Linked DNA regions of Homo sapiens: regions 2 and 3 are each linked to region 1. Evidence: fine-mapped expression QTL. A gene starts in region 1. Each other region holds a variant in brackets. All regions are shown on one strand. Distances are from middle to middle.

Region 1 (11,157 bases):
GAAGCCAAGGTGGACAGCTTGCTTGAGCCCAGAAGCTCAAGACCAGCCTGGCCCACATGGCAAAACCCCCGTCTCTACAAAGAAATACAAAAATTAGCTGGGTGTGGTGGTGTGCACCTGTAGTCCCAGGTACTCAGGAGGTTGAGGCTGCAGTGAGCCGTGATCATGCCACTGTACTCTATCCTGGGTGACAGATTAAGACTTATCTCAAAACAATGAAAGAAAAAAAATATGGGAAGACTGGCCTAAGGAGAGGGGAAAGACAGAAGACCTGGCCAGTCTTGACCCCAAGCTCTGAGTCAGACCTGCTTCTATAGGTCTTCTGAGATCCTTTGGTATTATACAATGTTCTCTCTTTGGGGATCAGTAGGTCCACCGTAGCACCCCTATGGCTGAACCTGAAATGAGTCTCTATTTTGTGTGGCCTCCTGTAGAAGCCAACAGGTGTTTCCTGGTGACCTCTACCATTGCCCATCATTTGGCTTGCCATATATTGACATCCTACTTTTAACCACAAATTGGGAATGGGCTCACCTATAGTCTTTCTACTGGAAAGAACAGTTTGAAATGCAATGCCCCAGAATAGAAATGGCCCAGGTAAGATGTGCTCCAGTGCTGACAGGCTGTATTATCCAGGGGCCTGGTAGCATGGGTCAGTTTATTAACCACAGGGACATGCTGCAGATGGCTCCTCTTGATAGGTTCATCACAGGACACTGCACAGCTCCAAGCAGACACCACGCAGGAAAATGGGGAAGATCCCATGGCCAAGGCAGACAAGGGGAGACCAATGCTATAATTTACAGACTAAGGAATTCTTCCTTGCTCCAAAGTCAAAAAGAAGCTAGAGATGCCAGTTTTTCTGCAGAACCTTGAGCAAACTTAAAGTTACCTATGACAAAAGTTCTGGCTCCAACCCCTAAGTCCCTCCACTCAGTCAAATTATGCAGCCATTAAAATATAAGATTGCTGGGCACAGTGGCTCATGCCTGTAATCACAGCACTTTGGGAAGCCAAGGTCGGAGGAATGTTTGAGCCCAGGAGTTTGAGACCAGCCTGGGCAACATGGCAAAACCGTCTCTACAAAAAATACAAAAATTAGCTGGGTGTGGTAGCGCAGGCCTGTGGCTCCAGCTACTTGAGAGGCTGAGGCAGGAGGATCACATGAGCCCAGGTGGAGGCTGCACCGAGCCGTGATCATGCCACTGCACTCCAGCCTGGGCAACAGAGCGAGACGCTGTCTCAAAAAAAGGTACAAGACTAGCAATACAGAAAAATGACAGATACAGAATTTTGTACTCAGAAGGAAATAAACCAGTTCTATTCTACCTACTTTTGGGTTGATGGTAAAATGGGAGATTTTCCTCCTTTGCTATATTTTTTCAAATTTCCCATAATGAGCATAAATTATTTTTTTTCTTTTTTGAGATGGAGTTTCGCTCTTGTCACCCAGGCTTGAGTGCAATGGCGTGATCTCAGCTCACTGCAACCTCTGCCTCCCGGGTTCAAGTGATTCTCCTGCCTCAGCCTCCTGAGTAGCTGGGATTACAGGTACGCACCACCATGCCTGGCCAATTTTTGTATTTTTAGTAGAGACCGGGTTTCACTATGTTGGTCAGGCTGGTCTCAAACTCCTGACCTCATGATCCACCCACCTTGGCCTCCCAAAGTGCTGGCATCACAGGCATGAGCCACCGCGCCCGGCCTATTATTGCTTAAAGAGGCGGTTTTCATTATGTTGCCCAAACTGGCCTTGAACTCCTAGCCTTAGATGATCTTTCTGTTTCAACCTCCTGAGTAGCTGGGACTAAAGGTGTGCACCACTCCTCCTAGCTAGAAGAAAAATAATTATTATTATTTCTGTAGAGATGGAGTCTTGCTATGTTGTTCAGGATGGTCTTGAACTTCAGGCCTCAAGCAATCCTCCTGCCTTAGCCTCCCAAAGTGCTAGGATTATAGGAGTAACCCACCGTACCCTTGCTGAAAATTATTTTGAAGTCTATGTCCATGTGTATTCATTCATTCATTCATTCATTCATTCATTCACTCAGAATCAGGGTCTTGCTCTGTCGCCCAGGCTGGAGGGCAGCAGTATGATCATGGCTCACTGCAGTCTTTAACTCCCGGGCTCAAGTGCTCCTTTCTTGGCCTCCCAAAGTATTGGGATTACAGGTGTGAACTACTGAGCCCAGCCCATATTTTCAGTTTCACTACACACAGCATTTTGTACTGTTAAACATATATATTTTCGCCCACAATCAGTTTTCATGGTTATCAGTTCTAAGGGTCCAGACAGTTGTATGTGTCAACCTCTTGGATATAATTTTTAACCTCCATGTATAGTGTTGCAATGAATGTGCCATTTCCTGCATTTGAAAAGTATCTCACTCATAAGGTTTTTGTGAGGATTAAATGAGTTAAATTAAAAGAAAATATAACAAGTACCTAGCACGCTATTTGACATAATTACTTAGTCAATCAACAGTAGCATTTGTTAATATCATAGCTTAGCTTAGCTGTTTGCTTCTGCTGAATTATCTCCCTAGGATAAATCTTGGAGGTGAGACTACTAGTTAAAAGGAACTGAAGTCCTTTAATTTTTAAATTTCCTATTAAATTTATCTAATAGGAATTTATTTGCTTAAAATGTAAATTGTGTCAATTTAAGGAGAAATTCATTGTAACATAACATAGAAATGCTGTCATTTTTAAATTTCCTTAGAAATTTTTAATTTTAAAATTTTCCTAGATTATGCATGGCTTTAGATCCAAACAATAATAAATTTACATATGTAAAACATGGCTCCCATGCCATCCTGTTTTCCAAAAGGCTTGCATCAATTTTATTCCTACAATTGTGTACGCTTTTAATCATTGCCTTGCCAGCATTGCTATCAACTACTTTTTTCCTGCTAGTCTAGTATGCATAAAACCTCAAGCATGCTTTAAGCTTAAATTCATTTTTCCCCTATAATTACTCTGTGCAAACATTTTTGGTATGTTTAGAGTCGGTATTGCTTTACTGGAAAAATCTCTGTTCATATCGGTCATCAGTTTATCTCCTAGTTTTCTTTATAAAATTAAATTAGCTATTTACTCTTGTTTTTTGAGATGGAGTTTTGCTCTTCTCGCCCAGGCTGGAGTGCAGTGGTGCAATCTTGGCTCACTGCAACCTCTGCCTCCCGCGTTCAGGCGATTCTCCTGCCTCAACCTCCCGAGTAGATGGGATTACAGGCGCCCGCCACCACGCCCGGCTAATTTTTGTATTTTTAGTAGAAATGGGGTTTTGCCATATTGGCCAGGCTGGTCTTGAACTCCTGACCTCAAGTGATCCACCCGCCTCAGCCTCCCAAAGTGCTGGGATTACAGGCATGAGCCACTGTGCCCGGCCTAGTGAACTATTTACTTGATTCAATTCCACGGAGCATTGGTTTACTTTACACATTTTGTAAGTCATGCATTAGTCTGGAATGTTTTGGTGAAAGATGTGGCTATGGACATCATACACAAATTGCTATCCACTTACACTAGCACCAGCTGGACGTGGTGGCTCACGCCTGTAATCCCAGCACTTTGGGAGGCCGATGCGGGTGGATCACCTGAGGTCAGGAGTTCAAGACCAGCCTGGCCAAGGTGGCGAAACCCCGTCTCTACTAAAAATACAAAATTAGCCGGGTGTGGTGGCTCATGCCTGTAATCCCAGCTACTCGCGAGGCTGAGGCATGAGAACTGCTTGAATCCAGGAGGCAGAGGCTGCGGTGAGCCGAGATCGCGCCACTGCACTACAGCCTGGGCGACAAGGGCGAGACTCCATCTCAAACAAAACAAAAACAACAATAAACAATTACACTAGTACCATTTGCTTGTTGCTTGTGGATTCATTTTGAATTATAATTGTTTTAAGTTGCAAAAATAATTAAAATGAGTTCTATAAAAATGTTTATCAAGAGAGGGCATATTGGCTAGGCGCAGCGGCTCATGCCTGTAATCCCAGCACTTTGGGAGGTTGAGGCGGGCGGATCACTGAGGCCAGGAGTTCAAAACCAGACTGGCCAACATAGCGAAACCCCGTCTCTACTAAAAATACAAAAATTAGCTGGGTGTGGTGGCTCACGCTTGTAATCCCAGCTATTTGGGAGGCTGAGGTAGGAGAATTGCTTGAACCCGGGAGTTGGAGGTTGCAGTGAGCCAGCATCATGCCAATGCACTCTAGCCTGGGCAACAGAGTGAGACTCTGACTCAAAAAAAAAAAAAAAAAGAGAGGGCACACTTTATGTTGAGAATTTTCTGGTTTTTTTTTTAGAGACAGTATCTTGCTCTGTTGCTCAAACCAGAGGGCAGTGACTTGATCACAGCTCACTGCAATCTCTAATTCCTGAGTTTAAGTGATCCTCCTGCCCCAGCCTCCCCAGTAGCTAGGACTACAAGCGCGTGCCACAATGCCCAGCTAATTTCCTCTTCCTTTTTGTAGTGACAAGGTCTTGCTTTGTTGCCCAGGCTGGCCTCAAGCGACCCTCCTGCCTCAGCCTCCCAAAGCGCTGGGATTACAGGGAGTATTTTATTTTTTTTTGAGACAGGGTCTCACTCTGTCACCTAGGCTGAAATGCCACTGCCGCACAATCATGGCTCACTGTAGCCTTGACCTCCCCAGGCTCAAGTGATCCTCCCGCCTGGGCCTCCCTACGTGCTAGGATTAGGCGTCAGCTACTGTGCCCAGCCTCAAGGAGAATTTTCCATTTCTGTAGTTTTGCTGCATGTAGTAGACTTTTTTTGGAAGTGATTGCAAATGAAGTTAGCAAATGTAATATAAAGAAAAGCACTGGATTAAATGTGAGAAAACTTGCATTCTAGACCTAAATCTACCTCAAACTTGATATGCTATCCAGGACTATTCCTTTAACCTCTCTTTGATCAATTTTCCTACCTGCTCTATCTCTATTTTGCTCCAGTGATCCCCATCTCAGTCAGGGTGAAAGGCAATGTCCTTGCAAGTACCTAGCAGGCATCCTCCCCTCAAATTCCTTACTGCTCTCCTCTAGCTCACCGGGCTCCAGGCACCTTGCAAGGAGCAAAGAAACGGCTTAAGGGCCTCTTTACTTTCAGGTTCTCTGCCTAGAAGTCCTCTCGATATGTGGAATACCCTGCCATTCACCTTCTGCAAGTCTTCACTCAAATGTCATTTCCTCAGTGACACTCTCACTGAAGTGGCACCACTCTTCCTGCTTTGTCTCCCCGCCTCCTTACATCCCTTATCATCATCTGACACTGAATAGACTTGTTTACTGTTTCTGTCTACCTGCATGTTAGGTCCTCACTGCTGTATCCACAGAATCTAAAAAAATACCTGGCATATCGTAGGCACGTAGTAAACACATGTTGGATGAACAACCAAATCTGTAAAATGAGGCCGTCACGCCGGATGGATCATCCATCCCCTTAAGATGAAACTGTGCTGCGACTGGGCCCAGTCTTCTTGCATTACCATCCTGAGAAGCCCAGCGACCACCTTCAGGGGCATACTCACTTTGCAGGAGCCTGCAGAGGCGGCTTCAGGTTCTCCCTCCTCGTGGACAAGGTCTAACAACTGAAAGCCCGAGTTCCCGGCGGCTTCTGGGTTCCCCGGCGTGTACTCGGACTCCTGGCCGCTCGAGGTGGTCCCCAAGGATCGGCGGCTGGAAAGCACCCGGTAGCGGCCCTCCTGCCGGACCTCCCGAGCCGAGGCGCGGAGATTACGGCGGACACGCTGCTGGCTGTCCCGTGACGGGCGCAGAACTTCCCGCAGGAGAGGCTGGACTGGTTCCTCCTAGGGGGCAACAGGGGACGGAGGCCAGCGTAAGCAGGAGTTCGCGAGCGGGTCAGGGATCGGGTTTCGTACCGGCTGCACCCGAAGATGCCCTCCACACCAGCTGCACCACGCCCAATACCTGGGAGCACACAGTGGCCACCAAGTGGAAGACATTATTCTCCGCCGCTCTCTCCAAACCCTCCGACGTCTTCTGTGCCGCTGACTCGACCGCGTCGCTCCGGAGGCGTTTACAAGCGAGCACAAGAGCCTCCGCCGGCTCCGCACTGCGCTTCCGCTTCACCCGGAGTACAGCGGTCCTGGCGGCCTCCATAGTGGCTGCCGCTGAGCACTGTGGGAGCTCGCGGGGTGTGATGGGATAGCTTTCCAGTTCTGCTTTAGGACCCGCCCCCCAGCACGCTCCTCGACGCTGCGAGGTCCCGCCCCGCGTGCTGGCCGCGGTAAAAGTGGTAGCAGCGGAGGCGAGCGGAGGGTTTCCCGCGGCGGGTGAGGCGCTGGGTATGCTGGGAAGGTGGGGTCGCTTTGGGGTTCTGTGTGCAGCGAGCATGGTGTCCTTGGCACCAGGGTTTCGGCAGAGGAGCCTAGCGTGGGCCTACTTGGACTCCTCCGCGTGGGGCAGCTCGGGACACCCGGGCCTGCAGGAGAGCGGGGTTCTAGGCTGGCCCCGGCTCTGCAGTGCAGCCGGGTGCCTGCCACTCGCGGGGCTCTGTCGCAGTACTCGTGCCTGGCGCCTCCCCTCAGCCACAGAGACCGCAGTAGCTCCAACCATCGCACCCCTAACTGGGCCACGAGTTCTCTGATTGCCAGACCTGTTGTCTTTGCCACTCACTGTTCTGAGTAATTGGAGAGTCGTGTATTCACTACACGCCAACCAGAGTGGTCCTGTAAAAGCGTAAGCCTAGTGTAGATACGCTTCTGCTTAAAACTCTTGAGTGGCTCCCAGTGCTTTTAGAACAAAATCCAAACGCCTTTCCGAAGTCGACAAGGCCCAGCTTGATTGAGCAGAAGATGTGATAGGAGATGAGGAGCGGGGGGCTTCTGCAAAAGTGCTTCGGTCGCTCAGGCTTTTGGCACATTTTGCTTATGCAACCTAGTTCTTTCTACCTTAGGGCCTTTTCTTGGGAAAGTTGGGGTAAGGATTCCTGACCTGTAAAAACTCTTCCCCAACTTTTATCCCGGTCTGTCTTGTAGATCTCAAATGCTAGTTTCCTCAGAGTCCTTCTGTAACCTTGGTTTTCTCTTTCTACAACGCTCTGTGTATTTCTTGCATTCATGTAGTCTGTAATTTGTATTACTCTCTCATTAGAGTCTAAGCTCTTGGAGGGCAAGGGTCTTCTCTAGCTTGTGGTGGTGGCTCCAGTCCCTAATATAGTGCCTGGCACATAGAAGGTATTTAATAAATTTTGTTATTTTATTTTTTCGAGACAGAGTCTCACTCTGCTGCCTAGGCTGAGTGCAGTGGTGTGATCGAGGCGCACTGCAGCCTTGACCTCCTGGGCTCAAGCGATCCTCACCTCGGCCTACCGAGTAGCTGGGACTACAGGCACGCGCCACTACACTCGGGTAATTTTTAATTTTAATATATGTATATTTATATATATATATATATATATATATTTTTTTTTTTAAGACAGGGTCTCACTCTGTCACCCAGGCTGGAGTTCAGTGGCGCCATCTCTGCTCACTGCAACCTCTGCCTCCCGGGCTCAAGTGATTCCCCTACCTCAGCCTCCCGAGTAGCTGGGAGTAACTGGGACTACAGGCACAGGCCACCGCGCCCGGCTAATTTTTTTAAAAATTTTTTGTAGAGAACGGGGTCTCACTATGTTGCGCAGGCTGGTCTGGAACTCCCAGACTCGATATCCTTGCGTCTCGGCCCCTCACAGTGCTGGGATCACAGGTGTGAGCCACCACCGCCTAGCAAATACATTTTGAATGAATGTAGTGGACCATCTGCTCTGCAGTCTGACGGCTAATACAATTAGGGCTTGGCATGGTGGTTTCTATTTCCTCCTTGTAAATGGCCATGCAAGTTTACAACTCTTGGAGAATGAGGAGGGGTTCAGAGAATATCTCCTGAATCTGTAGTGTAGACTGCTTCTGGGAGAGAACAAATAATAATGGATGAGGGCATTCAGCCAGAGAAGGTGTGTAGTGCCCACCAGAAGAGGTTCATGCCTTCATAAAATTGTTAACACAAGACATAGTTCCAGGTTTGTTTGTTTGTTTGAGATACAGTCTTGCTCTGTTGCCCAGGCTGGAGTGCAGTGGCGCGATCTTGGCTCACTGCAACCTCTGCCTCCCAGGTTCAAGCAATTCTCCTGCCTCAGCCTCCCAAGTAGCAGGGATTACAGGCACCTGCCACCATGCTGGCTAATTTTTTGTATTTTTAGTAGAGACGGGGTTTCGCCATGTTGGCCAGGCTGGTCTCGAACTCCTGACCTCAGGTGATCCACCTGCTTTGGTCTCCCAAAGTGCTGGGATTATAGGCGTGAGTCACCGTGCCTGGGCTGTTCCAGGTTTTGAAAAGACACTGTGGTCCTGGTTTTAGACTCAGCAACATCACAGACAAGAAAGGAATCCTATGGATTAAAGTTCTTCACTATAAGTTTTTTTTTTCCTCCAGTTCAAATGGGTAACGTGCCAATGTAGTAAAGGTTTGAGGGAGGCACGTCTGACACAGGCACATGAACACCCAGTCATCACGCTTATGAACTACAAAACGATGACTCTTAACCTTGAAGTGACTTCAGAATTGATTCCACATGGACCACAGGATTAGTATTTCAGGACTCTACCATATGGATCCTATTGATATGTTTGACACCTGGTCCAGTTTTACTTCACTAAACTGATTGATATAATGTGCATGATTGTCTAAGCCTTTCTAATTGGATGAAATGCCTTCTCCGTCCACAACCCCCTCCTTCTCCTCCTGCCTCAGCTGAATCCACCTTTTAAGCCTTCCTTGAACATTCAGTCAGATATGGCCATTTCTTTCTCTACTCCAACATTTGTTGGACACAGTTTTCTAATGCACATTACAGATTCTGACAGTTCTAGATATTCTGTCTGTAAAATAAATGTTAGTACATGAGATAAAGTGGATTATAGCAATGTTGTTAAACTGCTGGTTGCAACCCATTGATGGGTCCTGACCAGCAAGTAAAAGTGCAGCTGGGTGCCGTGGTGCATGCCGGTAGTCTAGCTACTTGGGAGGCTGACGTAGGAGGATCGCTTGAGTCCAGGAGTTTAAGGCTGTAGAGTGTAATGATCATGCCTGTGAATAGCCACTGTGATCCAACCTGGACAGCAGGGAGATCCCATCTCTTAAAAACAATAAAAATGAAATAGAGCATATCAGAGGGCCTTGTTCGTAGGAAGTCAGTATTGTTTTGTGGAACATTTAGTTGTATGCGTACATGCAGGTATGTGTATTGAGTCTCATTTTAAAGTATATTTCTTACTGGGGTTATCAGAAAGTTTGAAAATCATTAGACTAGGGGATAGGTATGCTGAGATTTTAGTAGTAGAGTTTTACCTGGACAAATTGTCTACTTTGAACCTGACTGCCGGCCTGAGTTTGTTCAGGGAAGATTGTTTCTAATCTATTTGCTTTTTGTTTGTTTGTTTTGGTGACGGAGTCTTACTCTGTTGCCCAGGCTGGAGTGCAGTGGTGCGGTCTCAGCTCACTGCAACCTCCGCCTCCTGGATTCAAGTGATTCTCCTGCCTCAGCCTCCTGAGTAGCTGGGAATACAGACGTGCGCCACCATGTCTGGCTAATTTTTGTATTTTTAGTAGAGACGAGGGTTTCGCCATGTTGGCAAGGCTGGTCTTGAACTCCTGACCTCAGGTGATCCGCCTGCCTTGGCCTCCCAAAGTGCTGGGATTACAGGTGTGAGCCACCGTGCCCAGCCTGTTTCTCATCTATTTGTGTAAGAATTCCATGTTTACTTACTCTAGATAACTTCAAAAGAAAAAAAACTCTGGCCAATAAAATGCCATAGGAATGTTTAGGGATATGTGGAGTAGGCATTCTTTCTAAGTTTTCCTGAAGATGCACCAATGTTTAACAAGAAAGGAAGGGCAGTGTAGAACACCTATTGCTTTCTGCATGGTAAGAGGGATGGGTATTGGGAGAGCCCACACCTGCTGAGGAGTGCCTTTAGACTTTGAGCGGTGGTGTTTCTCTCCCTCCCAGAAATAGATCTCTTTGGGGAGACAGGCCATACAAGACGTGAATCTGGTGACATTTTACTTGTTTGAAGCAAAATTTTTTTAGATGATGGAGGGTTTTTAAAAATTGCTTTTAAAATTAAAATTTGAATAGATAAGAAGTAATCACTATAAAAAATAATGAAGCATAAGGAATGCTAGTATTAGCTGGGTGTGGGGCACTCACTTGTAGTCCCAACTACTGGAGAGGCTGAGGCAGGAAGAATGCTTGAGCCCAGGAGTTTGAGTCCAGCCTGGGCAACATAACGAGACCCCATCTTTTAAAAAAAAAAAAAAAGAAAAAGAATGCTAATATCGTGAACATTTATGTTCCCACCACCCAATTTAAGAAAAAGAACAATACTTTTGAAGTCCACTGCGTACCCCTCCTTGATCCCATCTCTTTCCCTTCTCTTTTAGGAGTTAACTATCCTGATTCCTTGCTATGCTTTTTAGTGTGATCCCTGAAGAACGTATCACTCCATTTTGCATAGCTATAAATTTCATAGAAATGGAATCGTATTGCATGTGTTGTGTGATTTGCTGTTTTTGCTCATCATTATATTCCTGGGATTATCCATTTTTAGGTTTATGTGTGACTGTAATTTATTGTTTAGATGAAAGTTTTCCTGGTTTGACTTGCTCTATCTTCATATTTTTCCTTAAGCTAAGGGTTCAGCATACGAAGGCAGTATTGGTGGCACTTCTTTAACAGTACCCCATCTCTTCTCCTAGCCTTGAGGGCTGCACCTAGATGAACTTGTGAGGCTCATTTGAACCTTTTGGAAGCACCGAAGCCTGCTGAAGTTTCCAGACATCTGTATGAATCTGTTGTAGTTTTTTAATGTTATATGCTGAATATAAAACCAAGTAACTCCTGCTGGAAACATTTACAATATCGATTAACAAATACTATCAGTGGCTTTGACATTTTTGTCAGTTTCTTGATTTTTTTCCCCGCTTTTGTCTCCCCTTCCCCCCTCCACATTTTGGGGCATTGTGCTGTTAATAGATTTTTTTTCTGTTCGTTTGTTTATATACCTCCTGTTTCCTTCTGATGTTAATAGATTTCTGACAGTCAGACTTGTCCACAAGAACTCAACTGGCAAGGCTGCTTTTCTGTGCTAAAACTGGGGAG
Region 2 (8,000 bases), 110 kb before region 1:
TCTACTAAAAATACAAAAAATTAGCCAGGCATGGTGGTGTGTGACTATAATCCCAGCTACTCGGGAGGCTGAGACAGGAGAATCACTTGAACCCGGGAGGTGGCAGTTGCAGGGAGCTAAGATCGCGCCATTGCACTCCAGCCTGGGCGGCAGAGCAAGACTCCGTCTCGGGAAAAAAAAAAAAAAAAAAAAATATATATATATATATATATATATGTATGTGTATATATATATGTATGTGTATATATATATGTATGTGTGTATATATATATATGTATGTGTATATATATATATAGAGAGAGAGAGAGAGAGAGAGAACTTTGAGGGTAGATATGAAAATCCATGCCTTAGCATCTGTTTTACCACTAATATCTGTTGCTGAATACGAGATCTTTTCTTCCAGAATATATAGTGAGATCACAGTGTCTAGAGAATGGAATTCAAGGCCATTAGTTCCATAAATATTGCTGAATGCTGTCCTTTTGCAAGATGAAGCTAGATGCTGGGAATGCGAAGGATGTATTAAGATAGAATTCTCGGCCAGGCTCAGTGGCTCACACCTATAATCCCAGCACTTTGGAAGGCTGAGGCGGGTAGATCTCTTGAGCCCAGAACTTCAAGACCAGCCTGAGCAACATGGCAGAACCCCATGTCTACAAAACAAAATACAAAAAATTAGCCAGGCATAGTGATGTGGCCCTGTAGTCCTAGCTAGCCAGGAGGCTGAGGTGGGAGGATCACCTGAGCTGGAGAGGTTGAGGCTGCAGTGAGCTGTGATCATGCCATTGCACTCCAGCTTGGGTGACAGAGTGAGACCCTGCCTCAAATTTAAAAAAAAGATCAGCAGAGATATGTAACAGATTTCACAGGAAGGATTCAGCAAGTCTTCTGTGAGTAGGTGACATTTGAGCCAAGTTTTGGAGGATGAGTACAGTTGGCTTTCTGTATGCATGGGTTCCACACCTTGGATTCAACCATCTGTGGATTGAAAATATCTAGGGGGAAGAAAATGGATGGTTGCATCTGTATTGAACGTGTACAAACAGACTTTTTTTTTTCTTGTCTTATTCCCTAAACAATATAATATTACAACTGTTCCCATTAGCATTTACATTGTATTTGGTATTATAAATAATGTAGATATGATTTAAAGGGGGTATGTGGATAGATTATGTGCAAATAGTACACTGTTTTATATAAGGGACTTGCGCATTCATGGATTTTGGTATGGGGGGGTTGTATGGTATGGACATAATCATTTCTCAGTGTACTCAGGGGATTGATTTTAGGACCGCCTGTGTACAACCAAATCATGCATGCTCAAGTTTCACAGTCACCCTGTGGAACCCACATGTAAGAAAAGCAGCTGTGGTCTCAGTGCTTTGGGAGGCCAAGGTAGGAGGATTACTTGAGACTAGGAGTTTGAGACCAGCCTGGGCAACATAATGAGACCTCATTTCTACCAAAAAACCCTACAAAAATTAGCTGGGTGTGGTGGTGTGTGCCTGTAGTCCTAGCTACTAGGAAGACTGAAGTGGGAGGATCGCTTGAGTCCAGGAGTTCTAGGCTGCAGTGAGCTGATCGCATACTATTGCACTCCAGCCTGGGTAGCAGGAAAGTGAGACCCTGTCTCTAAAAAAAATTAAAAAGCCCTCCACATATGCAGATTTCACATTCGAGAATATTCTTTTTTAGATCCATGTTTGGTTGAAAAAAGCTGTGTATAAGTGGACCCAGACAGCTCAAAGCTGTGTTGTTCAAGGGCCACCTGAGTATGTTTTCAGTAAATGAACATCAGAGGCAAGTCAGATAACACAGCAGAAATAGAGAAGAAGGGTATGTTTGTCAGGGAAGGATATGTCTGTGGTGGGGTGAGGTATGGGGTCCGGGGTGGGGGATGGGGGTGATTGGTATGGTACAGGATGGTTTTAAAGCCATGAGGGGACATGCCAGGTCATTTGTGTGTAAACAGAAGGTATATGTGTAAACTAGAGCAACACCTAAAATTGCATAGCATTTTTCTATTTATTATCTAATCTAATCGTTACCATTCCTCAAACTCTGAGGTAGATAGTGACATTTATAGAGTTGGACTTTTGAAAAATCACACAACTAGTAAGCAGCAGAACTGAGACTGGTTCAATCCAGTCTTTTTCTTGTGGCACTACAGCTGCCTCTCAGAAACAGCAGGCCATGGTGGTTAGAACAGAACTCTCTACTAAACGGAATCCCTCAAGGTTTTTCTAATTCCTGGAGAATATTCTCCAGAAATGCATGTGCACAATTTCACTGCGTTAACCCATGTTCACAACTGCATCTGATCTGTTACACTGTTTGGTGTACTTGAGCACTCTGGTATTTAAGCATTTTGCTGCTGTTCTCTGTGCACAGCTGGCATAAGTGTCACTCCCTACTAAATGATGAAACCAAAAGGTAGAGAGCAGGCTGCTACTTTTATGCAAAACAGATTTGAAATAAAGGCTTACGCAAATATTGGCTTTAAAAATGTTGCCTGTTTCTTTTAGCAGTTTTAGACTAACTCTTCACATTGCTTTTTACCCTGAAACAAGGACTGAGACCTTGAGTCACTCATTTGTGATATAACTGAAGATAGGAGATTTATTGAGACTTTAAGAGCACTTCAGCTCATTTTTTTTAACCAATGAAGATATTTTTTCCTTCTAAAAAGAGCCCAAAGCTAGAACCTGCTCTTTCTAATTTACCACAGGTTGAGAGATTTGGGGGTAGAGGGTCGGATAGGCAACAAATCAGATCTCTAGAAAGATTTTGGGAAAATGTATTTCATTATTTGAATATATTAAGATTTGTTGCAAAAACAGAAGATCTGGAAAGGTGAGGTCTGTGAGGGCAACTGTAAAAGCAATTTTATTTTTGCTCCCTTTATTATAGTAGGGCATACAAGCAAGAAAGGAGCCAGGTGCCGTGGCTCATGCCTATAAACTCAGCACTTTGGGAGGCTGAGGTGGGTGGATCACCTAAGGTCAGGAGTTGGAGACCAGTCTGGTCAACATGGTGAAACCCTGTCTCTACTACAAATACAAAAAAAAAAAGCCAGCGTGGTGGTGGGTGCCTGTAATCCCAGCTACTTGGGAGGCTGAGACAAGAGAATTGCTTGAACCTAGGAGGCGGAGGTTGCAGTGAGCTGAGATCGCGCCATTGT[A/G]CTCCAGCTTGGGCGACAAGAACGATACTCTGTCTCAAAAAAGAAGCAAGAAAGAATGTTCCTAGATTGTAGCCCCCCAGAGACTAGCTATCACATTTGCTCATTGCCACCCCTCAGGGGACTTAATAGAAGCTCAGTGCTGCCAAGCAGTAATTACAGAGGGGGAAGAGCAGTACACAATGGTGTGCACCTGTAGTCCTGGCCACTTGGGAATGTGAGATGGAAGGATCACCTGGACTCAGGAGTTCGAGTCCAGTCTTGCCAATATAGTGAGACCCTGTCTCTAAAATTGAAAAAAAAATGGACAGGCTGGGCGCAGTGGCTCATGCCTGTAATCCCAGCACTTTGGGAGGCTGAGGTGGGCGGATCACGAGGTCAGGAGATAGAGATCATCCTGGCTAACACGGTGAAACCCCGTCTCTACTAAAAGTACAAAAAACTAGCCGGGCGTGGTGGTGGTCGCCTGTAGTCCCAGCTACTTGGGAGGCTGAGGCAGGAGAATGGCGTGAACCCAAGAGGCGGAGCTTGCAGTGAGCCGAGATTGGGCCACTACACTCCAGCCTGGGCAACAGTGCAAGACTCCGTCTCAAAAAATAAAATAAAATAAATAAAAGGACAGAAAAAACTGAAACGCACTCTTTTTATTTTTTTGTGATGGTAGTCTCACCCTGTCATCCGGTCTGAAGTGCAGTAGTGCAATCTTGGCTCACTGCAGCCTCGATTTCCTTGGCTAAAGGGATCAATCCTCCCACTTCAGCCTCCTGAGTAGCTGGGACTACAGGCATGTGCCACCACACCTGACCAATTTTTGTTAAAACGCACTTCTGAAAACCTTAGATTATTGGCTGTATAATTTTTGCAAATTGAATTTTTGATGCTTAATTTAAGCTCCAAAATGAATTTATTTTTATTTTTATTTATTGATATGGAGTCTCTATCACCCAGGCTGGAGTGCAGTGGCGCAATCACAGCTCACTGCAACCTCTACCTACCAGGTTCAAGAGGTTCTCCTTCCTCAGCCCCCCGAGTAGCTGGGACTACAGGCGTGTACCACCACGCCCAGCTAATTTTTGTATTTTTTAGTAGAGACGGGGTTTCGCCATGTTGGCCAGGCTGGTCTCGAACTCCTGACCTCAGGTGATCTGCCTGCCTCAGCCTCCCAAAGTGCTGGGATTACAGGCATGAGCCACCATGCCCAGCCTAAAATGAATTTTTGATATTTTTAATTTGACTCATTTATTATGATATTTGGATTTGCCTTTGAAGGTAGAATTTTTAGATGCCTAGAAAAAAAAGTTCTGCAAACTTTTAATGTAAATTCAAATTAGCTGGGCGTGGTGGTGGGAGCTTGTAATCCCAGCTATTCTGGAGGCTGAGGCAGGGAGAATTGCTTGAACCCGGGAGGTGGAGGTTGCAGTGAGCTGAGATCGCACCACTGCGCTCCAGCCTGGGTGACAGAGTGAGAGACTCCATCTCAAAAAAGAAAAAAAAACAACTTTTAATGTAAATCCATAAAATGAAAATTAAAATGGCTGGGCGCAGTGGCTCACTCCTGTATCTCAGCACTTTGGGAGGCCGAGGTGGGCAGATCACCTGAGGTCAGGAGTTCTCCACCAGCCTGACCAACATGGAGAAACCCCGTCTCTACCAAAAATACAAAATTAGCCTGGTGTGGTGGCGCATCCCTGTAATCCCAGCTACTTGGGAGGCTGAGGCAGGAGAGTCGCTTGAACCTGGGAGGCTGAGGTTGCGGTGAGCCGAGATTGCGCCATTGCAATCCAGCCTGGGCAACAAGAGTGAAAGTCCATCTCAAGAAAATAAATAAATAAATAAATAAATAAAAACCCATAGACCTTGAACTCCATAGCACTGGAATATCTCGTTTTTAATTTTTTTTTATTTTTTGTAGAGATGAAATCTTGCTAAACTGCCCAGGCTGGTCTAGAACTCATGGCCTCAAGCAATTCTCCCACCTTGGCCTCTCAAAGTTCTGGGAGCCATCATATCTGGCCAAATGTCCCCTTTCTGGTTAGCTTTATTATATTTTATTTTATTTTACTTTATTTCATTTTATTATTCTTGAAGATGGCATCTCACTCTGTCACCCAGGCTGGAGTGCAGTGCTGTGAACACAGCTCACTGCATCCTCAACTTCCTGGGCTGAAGCATTCCTCCTGCTTCAGCCTGCTGAGTAACTGGGACCACAGGCACATGCCATCATGCCCTGCTAATAGTTAACTTTAAAAGTCATAGAGCCAGGCGTGGTGGTGTGTGCCTGTAATCCCAGTTACTGAGGAAGGCTAAGGCAGGAAGATCACTTGAGCCTAGTTTGAGGCTAGCGTGGACAACATAGCAAGACCCTGTCTCTGAGTATTTTAAGTGAGTCATAGAACATACCAGAAAGGATTGAAAGTGACTAAAATGAACTTTGTAGTTAGCCGAAGCTCAATTTGTTTTAACTTTTTCATATTATGTTAACTGTTAAGTCCAAAGTAATTTCCACTCTACAACCACAGGACACGGTAATTTAAAAAAATTTTTGCTATACTACTTAAAGATACTTATCCTAATAACTTTTGTTAATTCTGTTTTATATTCAAATTTATATATCCTCTTTTAACCAAATCAAAGATCAAAACACATTTTCTTTAATTTTTGAAGTTTTTAAGTAACATGGAATCTCTTAGGCATCATTCATGTATTAGTTGACTGTTACTTTTAGAAATGTGGACATTAACATCAATTTTTTATTATAAATTCAATGACATTTACTGGAGAAGATAGTAATGTAACTCAGCTCAGAATTTCGGGAGTTATAGACTGAGCATGGTGGCTCACGCTTGTAGTCCCACCACTTTGGGAGGCCCAGGCAGGCAGATCACTTGAGCCCAGGAGTTTGAGAATAGCCTGGACAACATGGCAAAACCCTGTCTGGAAAAATTACAAAAGTTACCTGGGCAGGGTAGCACGTGCCTGTAATACCAGCTACTTGGGAGGCTGAAGTGGGAAGATTGCTTGAGCCCAGGAGGTCGAGGCTTCAGTGAGTGGTGATCATGCTACTACACTCCAGCCCAGGTGACAGAATGAGACCCTTGTCTCAAAAATAAAGTAGTTATAGAGCTGGAAAATATTCTAATATAGCTCTCATTTTATGGATAAAACATCTGAATTTTACACAGAGCCTAAGGTGTTCATCCAGGATAAGACACTTGAATTATGGCAGAATAAAGACTAAAACCTGTTTTCTGACTCTAGGAGTTTTTCTAGAATCTGTAATCAAGTTTCTAGTCAGTGTGTTGAGGTTTTAGAACTGGTGTCAAACAAAGAATACATGAAAGAAAATGCCATTTTCTCCATAGAGCCTTGATTGTGAGAGGAACCAGGGTAATCTTAAGATTATAGATTCTGGCCAGGTGCAGTGGTTCATGCCTTGTAATCCCAGCACTTCGTGAGGCCAAGATGGGAGGATCGCTTGAGCCCAGGAGTTCTAGACCAGCCTGGGCAATATACCCTGTCTCTACCAAAAATTTAAAAATTAGCTGAGCATAGCTGGGCGTGTTGGCTCACGCCTGTAATCCCAGCACTATGGGAGGCCAAGGCGGGCAGATCATGAGGTCAGGAGGTCGAGACCATCCTGGCCAACATGGTGAAACCCCGTCTCTACTAAAATACAAAAAAACTAGCCAGACATGGTGGTGCGTGCCTGTAGTCCCAGCTACTCAGGAGTCTGAGGCAGGGGAATCGCTTGAACCCAGGAGGCGGGGATTGCAGTGAGCCAAGATCACGCTGCTGCACTCCAGCCTGGCAACAGAGCGAGACTCCATCTCAAAAAGAAAAAGAAAAAAAATTAGCTGATCATGGTGATGTGTGCCTATAGTCCCAACTACTCAGGAGGCTGAAGTGGGAGGATTGCTTGAACCCAGGAGGCGGAGGTTACAGTGAGCTGAGATTGCGCCACTGCACTGCAGCGTGGGCAACAGACCAAGACCCTGTTTATTTTTTTTTTATTTTTTATTTTTTTTGAGACAGAGTCTCGCTCTGTCGCCCAGGCTGGAGTGCAGTGGCGCGATCTTGGCTCACTGCAAGCTCCGCCTCCCGGGTTCACGCCATTCTCCTGCCTCAGCCTCCTGAGTAGCTGGGACTACAGGCGCCCGCCACCACGCCCGGCTAATTTTTTGTATTTTTTAGTAGAGGCGGGGTTTCACTGTGTTAGCCAGGATGGTCTCGATCTCCTGACCTCATGATCCGCCCACCTCTGCCTCCCAAAGTGCTGGGATTACAGGCGTGAGCCACCGCGCCCGGCCCCAAGACCCTGTTTAAAAAAAAAAAAAAAAGTATTATTCTCAGTATTAGATGAAGTGTTTTTTGGTTTGTTTTGTTTGTTTTTGAGACGGAGTCTCACTCTGTCGCCCAGGCTGGAGTGCAGTGGCGATCTCAGCTCACTGCAAGCTCTGCCTCCCGGGTTCATGCCATTCTCCTGCCTCAGCCTCCTGAGTAGCTGGAACTACAGGCACCCGCCACCATGCCCGGCTAATTTTTTGTATTTTTAGTAGAGACAGGGTCTCACCGTGTTAGCCAGGATGGTCTTGATCTCCTGACCTTGTGATCCGCCTGCCTCAGCCTCCCAAAGTGCTGGGATTACAGGTGTGAGCCACTGCGCCCGGCCTAGATGAAGTTTTAAAGGCTCTCCATTCTCTTTCTCGCTGGAGTTCACACTTTGGTATTCTTAATGATAATTATATTCGTCTGTGTCTCTTCCCTAGCTTCTTTGGAACATCTCAGGGCCTTTTGAGTTCTAACTACTCTTCTTGTTTTATGT
Region 3 (8,000 bases), 210 kb before region 1:
GTGAGCCACCGTGCCAGGCCCTATGTGACCATTTGAGGTTGACTTTTTCTTCACTCATTGCCTGGCGATCCTTCCAAGTTGTCGAGTATATTAATAGTTTGTTCTGTTTTATTGCTGAGTAGTGTTCCATCATATGGATGTACTACAGTTTAATTGTTTACCCATTGAAGGACATTCGGGTTATTTCCAGTTATTGGCTATTATGAAAATTGCTATGAACATTTGTGTACAGATTTGTATGTGGATATGTGTTGTTTCTTTTTTTTTCTGGTATAAATACCCAGAAGTACAAATGCCTCCTGACCTCCAATCTGTGAATTTAGTTTTATAAGAAACTGCCAGGGTGTGGTGGCTCACACCTGTAATCCCAGCACTTTGGGAGGCCGAGGTAGGCAGATCACTTGAGGCCAGGGGTTCAAGACCAGCCTGGGCAACATGGTGAAACCCCATCTCTACTAAAAATACAAAAATTAGTCAGGCATGATGATGCATGGCTGTAGTCCCAGCTATTTGGAAGGCTGAGGCATGAGAAATCGCTTGAACCCTGGAGGCGGAGGTTGCAGTGTGCCAAGATTGTGCCGCTGTACTCCAGCCTGAGCAACAGAGCAAGGCTCTGTTTCAAAAACAAAACAAAACAAACAAAAAAAAAAACCAAACCTGCCAAATGTTTTCATTCCCACCAGCAGGTGTATGAGTTACTCAGTTTCTCTGCATCTTGGGCAGCATTTGGTATTAACACCTTTTTTTTTTAATCATTCTGATGGGTGTGTAGTGATACCTCATTGTGGTTTTAATTATATTCTTCTCATGACTAATACTGTTGACCATTGTTTTATGTGATTTTTGCCATCCGTATATTATTTTTGGTCTAGTGTCTAAGTCTTTGCCCCTTTTTAGATTGGGTTGTTTTCTTATTGTTGAATTTTGAGAGTTCTGTGTGTGTGTGTGTGTGGGGTGTGTGTGTGTGTGTGTGTGTGTGAAACAAGTCTATCAAATATATGCTTTGCAGAGAGTTTCTCTCAATCTGTGATTTGTTTTTTAATTCTATTAATAGTATCTTTTGTAGAAGTTTTACATTTTGATGAAGTTTGCCTTACCAATTTTTTCTTTCATGGATTGCACTTTTGGTGTTACAGCTAAGAAATCTTTGCCTAACCCATGCTCACAAAGATTTTCTCCTCGGTTTTCTTTTCTTTTCTTTTTTTTGAGACACAGTCTTGCTCGTGTTGCCCAGGATGGAGTGCAGTGGCATGATTATGGCTCGCTGCAGCATCAACCTCCTGGGCTCAAGCTATTCCTCCTGCCTGAGCCTCTGTAATAGCTGGAACCACAGGTGTGCACCACCATGCCCCGCCAATTTTTAAATTTTTCGTAGAGATATGGTTTCACTGCATTGGCCAGGCTTGTCTCAAACTGTAGGGCTCAAGTGATCCTTCCTCCTTGGCCTCCCAAAGTGTTGGGATTACAGGAGTGAGCTACTGTGCCTGGCTGCTAGGTTTTCTTTTGGAAGTTTTATAGTTTTAGGTTTTTTTTTTTGTTTTTTTTTTTGAGACGGAGTCTCGCTCTGTTGCCCAGGCTGGAGTGCAGTGGCGCGATCTCGGCTCACTGCAAGCTCCGCCTCCCGGGTTCACGCCATTCTCTTGTCTCAGCCTCCCAAGTAGCTGGGACTACAGGCGCCTGCCACCACGCCTGGCTAATTTTTTGTATTTTTGATAGAGATGGGGTTTCACCATATTATCCAGGATGGTCTTGATCCCCTGACCTCATGATCCGCCCGCCTCTGCCTCCCAAAGTGCTGGGATTACAGGCATGACCCACCGCACCCGGTCCCAAAGTATCTTTTAGGTGCCTGAGTCTCAGCATTTTTGACACATCAATTCGTCTGTCAATTTTATTTTCTTGGAGACTTTCCTTTCTCTCAGAGCCTTCTAAACTAATCTGGATTAGTGGATACCTAGCATGTTGTACATCTGTCATTGTGAGACCTCACTTCTCTGTCATCTTGAGTTCTTTGCATTTCTGTTATTGTGTTGTCATTTGTTTCTTTGCAACTCATTTTGGTGGAGTACTTCCTTCAGTAGCTTACTGATGGTAATAGGAGGTAAATTTTTGTGACCTTATATATTTAAAGGTCTTCACCAGGCGCAGTGGCTCACGCCTGTAATCCCAGCACTTTGGGAGGCTGAGGCAGGTGAATCACAAGCTTAGGAGTTAGAGACTAGCCTGGCCAACATGGTGAAACCCCGTCTCTACTAAAAATACAAAAAAATTAGCTGGGTGTGGTGGTGCGTGGCTGTAATCCCAGCTACTTGGGAGACTGTGGCAGGAGAATCGCTTGAACCCAGGAGGCAGAGGTTGCAGTGAGCCGAGATTGCACTACTGCACTCCAGCCCTGGTGACAGTGTGAGACTCCATCTCAGGAAAAAAAAAAAAAAAAAAAAAAAAAAAGTCTTCATTCTCCCCTCACACTTAATTTTGGCTGGTTGTAGAATTCTAAGTTAGATATCATTTTCTCTCATAAATTTGAAGGCATTGCTCTCCATTTTCTCCATTTTATTCCATTGTTGTTGAAAAGTCTGATGCCATTCTGATTCTTGATTCTTCATGTGTAACCTGTTACCCTCCTCTGAGTCTTTTAGGTTCTTCTCTTTGTCCTTTGTGTTCTGATTTTTTCAGTTCCATTGTAATCTCAGGAGACCATTTTCACATACGTGGTCTGTCATTGACCAAAACATCATCAAGCAGTACCTGACTACCTACAAATGTAATTGCTTGTCATATGGTAATTCTCTATGTAAATTTTTGAGGCACCATCAAACTCTTTTCTACAGCAACTCAGCTGTATCACTTTACATTGCCACTAGTAATATATGAGGGTTCTTATTTATCTGTATCCACACTAACACTTGTTTTCTCTTTTTGTTTATTTTTTCAAATTAAAGCCATCCTGGGAGTGTGAAATGGTATCTCTCTGTGGTTTTTATTTGCATTACCTAATGACCAGTGATGTTGAACATCTTTTCATGTGCATGTTGGTCATTTGTATATCTTCTTTGGAGAAATGCCTATTCATGTGCTTTGTCCATTTTTTAATTCAGCTGTTTGACTTTTTGCTGTTCAGTTATAAAAACTCTATATATTCTGGATACTAAAGCCTTATCAGATCTAAGATTTACAGATATTTTTTCCCATTCTGTAGGTTGTCTTTTCACTTTTCTTTTTTCTTCTTTTTTTTTTATTTTATTATTATTATTATTATTTTCTTCTGAGACAAGGTCTCACTCTGTTGCCCAGGCTGGAATGCCATGGTGTGTGATGTTGGCTCATGGCAGGCAGCCTTGACCTCCTTGGCTCAAGTTAGCTTCCCACCTCAGCCTTCCAAGTAGCTGGGACTACAGGTGCATGCCACCATGCCCAGCTAAGTTTTGTATTATTTTGTGGAGATGAGATTTCACCACGTTGCCCAGGTTGGTCTCAAATTCCTGGGCTCAAGTCATCTGCCTGCCTCAGCCTCCCAAAGGGTTGGGATTACAGGCATGAGCCACTGGGCTTGGCCTCACTTTCTTGATGGTGCCCTTTGGTGCACAAAAGTTTTTAATTTTACCAAGTTGTATTAATTGAGTTCTTTTGTTGCTTGTGCTTTTACTATTAAGAATCCATCGCCAAATCTGAAGTCTTGACAGTGTACTCCTATTTTTGCTTCTAAGAGTTTTATGCTTTTAGCTCTTATATTTAGGTTGTTGATCCTTTTTGAGTTAATTTTTGTATATGGTATGAGGAAGGGGTTCAACTTCATTCTTTTGCATGTGATAATCCAGTTTTCCCAGTACCATTTGTTGAAGGAACTATTCTTTTTCCATTTAAAGTCTTAGCACCCTTGTAAAAAATCAATTGGCCATAGATATTCGGGTTTATTTCTGAACTCTCATTTCCATTCCATTGATTAATACATCTCTTCTTATGCTAGCACCACACTGTTTTGATTGCTGTGCCTTTGTAGTAAGTTTTGGAGTGTTAATCCTACTTTGTTTTCTTTTTCAGTGTTATTTTGGCTGTTCAGAGAATATTCTGGGCCCCTTGCATTTCCGTATAAATTTGAGGATTGGCTTTTCCATTTCTCTAGAAAAGCCCGTGAAATTTTGGTAGGGATTGCATTGTACATCACTTTGGAGAGTATTGCATGTTAACATTGTTTTTCAATCCATGTACACAAGAAGTCTTACCACTTATTTAG[G/T]TCTTCTTTAATTTATTTCAGCAATGTTTTGTAATTTTTAGTGTGTAAGTTTTTCATGTCCTTGGTTAAATTTATTCCTGAGTATTATTTCTTTTGGAGGTTACTGTAAATAGAATTTTCTTAATTTCCTTTTCAGATTGTTTATTGCTTGTATATAGAAACAACAGAATTTTATGTGTTGATGTTTTACCCTGCACCTTTAATGAATTCATTTATTAGCTGTAGTTTTTTGTAGAACTTATGGGTTTTACTTTATATAGAATCATGTCTTCTGCAAGTAGAAATAGTTTTACTTCTTCCTTTCCAATTTGGATGTCTTTTAATTCCTTGATTGCCCTGGGTAGGACTCCCAGTACAATGTTGAATAGTAGTGGTGAAAGCATGCATCCTTATCTTGCTTCTTATCTTGGGGGAAGGCTTTTGTTTTACACCACTATGATGTTAGCTGTGGGCTTTTCACAAATGGTTTTTTTTTTTTTTTTGAAATGGAGTCTGGCTCTGTCGCCCAGGCTGGAGTGCAGTGGCGCGATCTCTGCTCACTGCAAGCTCCGCCTCCTGGGTTCATCACGCCATTCTCCTGCCTCAGCCTCCCAAGTAGCTGGGATTACAGGTGCCCACCACCACGCTCAGCTAATTTTTTGTATTTTTAGTAGAGACAGGGCTTCACCATGTTAGCCAGGATGGTCTTGATCTCCTGACCTCATGATCCGCCCCTCTTGGCCTCCCAAAATGCTGGGATTACAGGCGTGAGCCACCGCACCTGGCCTCACAAATGCTCTTGATCATGTTAAGGAAGTTTACTTCTATTCCTAGTTTGCTGAGGTTTTTGTTTGTTTGTTTCAGTCTTAAAAAGATGTTGAATTCTGTCAAATGCTTTTTCTGTCAGTTGAGGTGACTGTGTGGGTTTTTTTTTTTTTTTTTGAGATGGAGTCTCACTTTGTCACCCAGGCTGGAGTACACTGGTATGATCTTGGCTTACTGCAGTCTTCACCTCCCAGGGTCAAATGATTCTCCTGCCTCAGCCTCCCAAGTAGGTGGGATTACAGGCGCCTGCCACCATGCCTGGCTAAGTTTTGTATTTTTAGTAGAGACAGGGTTTCACAATGTTTGCCAGGCTGGTCTCGAACTCCTGACCTCAAGTGATCCACGTGCCTCAGCCTCCCAAAGTACAGGCATGAACCAGTACACCCGGCCCCTGATTGTGTGGATTTTTTTTCTTCACTCTATTAATATGGTATATTATATCAGTTGATTTTCACATGTTGAACCACCCTTGCATTCCTGGGATAAATCACATTTGGTCTTTTTTAATGTGCTCTTGGATTCAGTTTGCTAGTGTATATTTTGTTGAGGATTTTTGTGTTTATATTCATACGGGATATTGGTCTGTAGTGTCTTGCTTTGGTATCAGGAAAATACTGGCCTCATAGAATGTGTTAGGAAGCATTCCCTCTATTTTTTGGAAGAATGTGAGAAGTAGTGCTGTTAATTCTTGTCTAAGTGTTCATTAGAACTGACCAGTGAAGCCATCTGTTCCTGGGAGAATTTTGACTATGATTCAATCTCTTTACTTGTTAGAGGTCTGAGATTTTCTTTTTCTTCTGAGTCAGTTTTGGTAATCTCTGTATATCTAGGAGTTTGCTCATTCCTTCTAGATTGTCTAATTTGTTGGTGTACGATTGTTCATAGTATTCTTCTTCTTTTTTTTTGAGACAGAGTCTCACTCTGTTGCTCAGACTAGAGTGCAGTGGAGCAATCTTGGCTCACTGCAGCCTCCGCTTCCTGGGTTCAGGCGATTCTCCTGCCTCAGCCTCCCTAGTAGCTGGGATTACCACCACGCCAGGCTAACTTTTGTATATTTTAGTATAAATGGGGTTTCACCATGTTGGCCAGGCTGGTCTTGAACTCTTGACCTCAAGTGATCCACCTGCTTCGGCCTCCCAGAGTGCTGGGATTATAGGTGTGAGCCGCCGCACCCGATCCTGTTCATAGTATTCTTATTATCATAGTATTCTTACATATATTTTTGCAAACACCAGTTGTAATACATTCTAACAAAATCCACTTACGTTGTGCTAAAGTAGTGTTTTCTTTTTTCTTTTCTTTTTCTTTTTTTTTTTTCGAGATGGAGTTTCACTCTAGTTGCCCAGGTTAGAGTGCAATGGTGTGATCTTGGCTCACTGCACCTCCACCTCCTGGGCTCAAGTGATTCACCTGCCTCAGCCTCCCGACTAGCTGAGAATACAGGTGTGCACCATCACGCCTGGCTAATTTTTGTATGTTTAGTAGAGACGGGGTTTCTCCCTGTTGTCCAGGCTGGTCTCAAACTCCTGACCTTGTGATCTGCCCGCCTCGGCCTCCCAAAGTGCAGGGATTACAGGCATGAGCCACCACACCCAGCCTCTTTTTTGTATTTTTAGTAGAGATGGGGTTTCACCATGTTGGCTGGGCTGGTCTTGAACTTCTGACCTCAGGTGATCTGTCCACCTCAGCCTCCCAAAGAGCTGGGATTACAGACGTGAGCCACCGTACCCGGACGCCTTTTTTTTTTGTTGTTTTTTTTTTAATTTAATTTAATTTTAAGTTCTTGGATACATGTGCAGGATATGGAAGTTTGTTACATAGCAAAATGTGTGCCATGGTAGTTTGCCACACCTGTCAAGCCATTACCTAAGTGTTAAGCCCAGCATGCATTAGGTATTTTTCCTGATGCTCTCCCTCTCTCGTGACCCCCACCCCCAGACAGGCCCCAGTGTGTGTTGTTCCCCTCCCTGTGTCCATGTGTTCTCATTGTTCACCTACTGTTTATAAGTGAGAACATGTGGTGTTTGGTTTTCTGTTCCTGCATTAGTTTGCTGAGGATAATGGCTTCCAGCTCCATCCATGATCTCATTCTTTTTATGGCTGCACAGTATTCCATGGTGTATGTGTACTACATTTTCTTTATCTTGTCTGTCATTGGTGGGCATTTGGGTTGATTCTATGTCTTTGCTATTGTGAATAGTGCTGCAGTAAACATACACATGCATGTATCTTTATAATAGAATGATTTATATTCCTTTGGGTATATACCCAGTAATGGGATTGCTAGGTAAAATGATATTTTTGGTTCTAGGTCTTTGGGAGAATAATTGCTACACTGTCTTCCACAATGTTTGAACTAATTTACATCCCTACCAAGAGTATAAAAGCCTTTCTATCTCAGCCTCGCCAACATCTGTTGTTTCTTGACTTTTTAATGACTGCCATTCTGGGCCGGGTGTGGTGGCTTACGCCTGTAATCCCAGCACTTTGAGGGGCCGGGGCGGGCGGATCAGTTGAGGTCAGGAGTTCAAGACCAGCCTGGCCAACATGATGAAACGTCATCTCTACTAAAAATAATAAAATTAGCTGGGCATTGTGGTGCATGCCTGTAGTCCCAGCTACTTGGGAGGCTGAGACAGGAGAATCACTTGAACCCAGGAAACAGAGGTTGCAGTGAGCCGAGATCATGCCACTGCACTCCAGCCTAGGCGACAGAGTGAGACACTGTATCAAAAAAATATAATAATAATAATAATAATAATTTCCTTTCTGACTGGTTTGAGATGGTATCTCATTGTGGTTTTGATTTGCATTTCTCTGATCATCAGTGATGTTGAGCTTTTTTTATGTTTGTTGGGCTGCATAAATGTCTTCTTTTGAGAAATGTCTGTTCATGTCCTTTGCCTACTTTTTAATGGGGTGGTTTATTTTTTTTTTTTTTGTAAATTTATTTAAGTTTCTT

Alleles and levels. Positions count from the first base shown, and alleles are read on the strand shown. Sizes are in standard deviations (SD) of each study's normalised expression.
In carriers of allele G in region 2, the expression in NK cells of the gene that starts at base 6,136 in region 1 tends to be lower than with A alone (moderate effect, 0.70 SD a copy in Gilchrist 2021).
As copies of G replace T in region 3, the expression in monocytes after interferon gamma of the gene that starts at base 6,136 in region 1 goes up (large effect, 1.3 SD a copy in Fairfax 2014).

Evidence for each region. PIP is the estimated chance that this variant, and not a neighbour inherited with it, causes the effect. A credible set is the group of variants that fine-mapping cannot tell apart.
Region 2: its variant is the best candidate, but not a certain one, in a credible set for the expression of SLC7A6OS in NK cells (Gilchrist 2021, PIP 0.54).
Region 3: its variant is the best candidate, but not a certain one, in a credible set for the expression of SLC7A6OS in monocytes after interferon gamma (Fairfax 2014, PIP 0.51).

What each region holds. Positions count from the first base shown.
Region 1 is chr16:68,304,811-68,315,967 of GRCh38, forward strand. It overlaps SLC7A6OS (solute carrier family 7 member 6 opposite strand), which reads right to left and starts at 6,136. Exons shown (of 5, transcript NM_032178.3): 1 at 5,925-6,136; 2 at 5,525-5,803. The coding sequence starts at 6,116. It overlaps PRMT7 (protein arginine methyltransferase 7), which reads left to right and starts at 6,209. Exons shown (of 19, transcript NM_019023.5): 1 at 6,209-6,289; 2 at 7,232-7,366; 3 at 11,087-11,157. It overlaps LOC124903789 (small nucleolar RNA U13), which reads right to left and starts at 8,530; the gene lies at 8,429-8,530. RefSeq lists an enhancer at 5,141-6,105.
Region 2 is chr16:68,192,039-68,200,038 of GRCh38, forward strand. All of the region lies in intron 9 of NFATC3 (nuclear factor of activated T cells 3), which reads left to right. Among named protein-coding and RNA genes, the nearest start is that of MIR6773, 37 kb to the right of the region's middle. The variant A/G (reference allele first, on the strand shown) is at 3,182.
Region 3 is chr16:68,099,954-68,107,953 of GRCh38, forward strand. All of the region lies in intron 1 of NFATC3 (nuclear factor of activated T cells 3), which reads left to right. Among named protein-coding and RNA genes, the nearest start is that of NFATC3, 19 kb to the left of the region's middle. The variant G/T (reference allele first, on the strand shown) is at 4,235.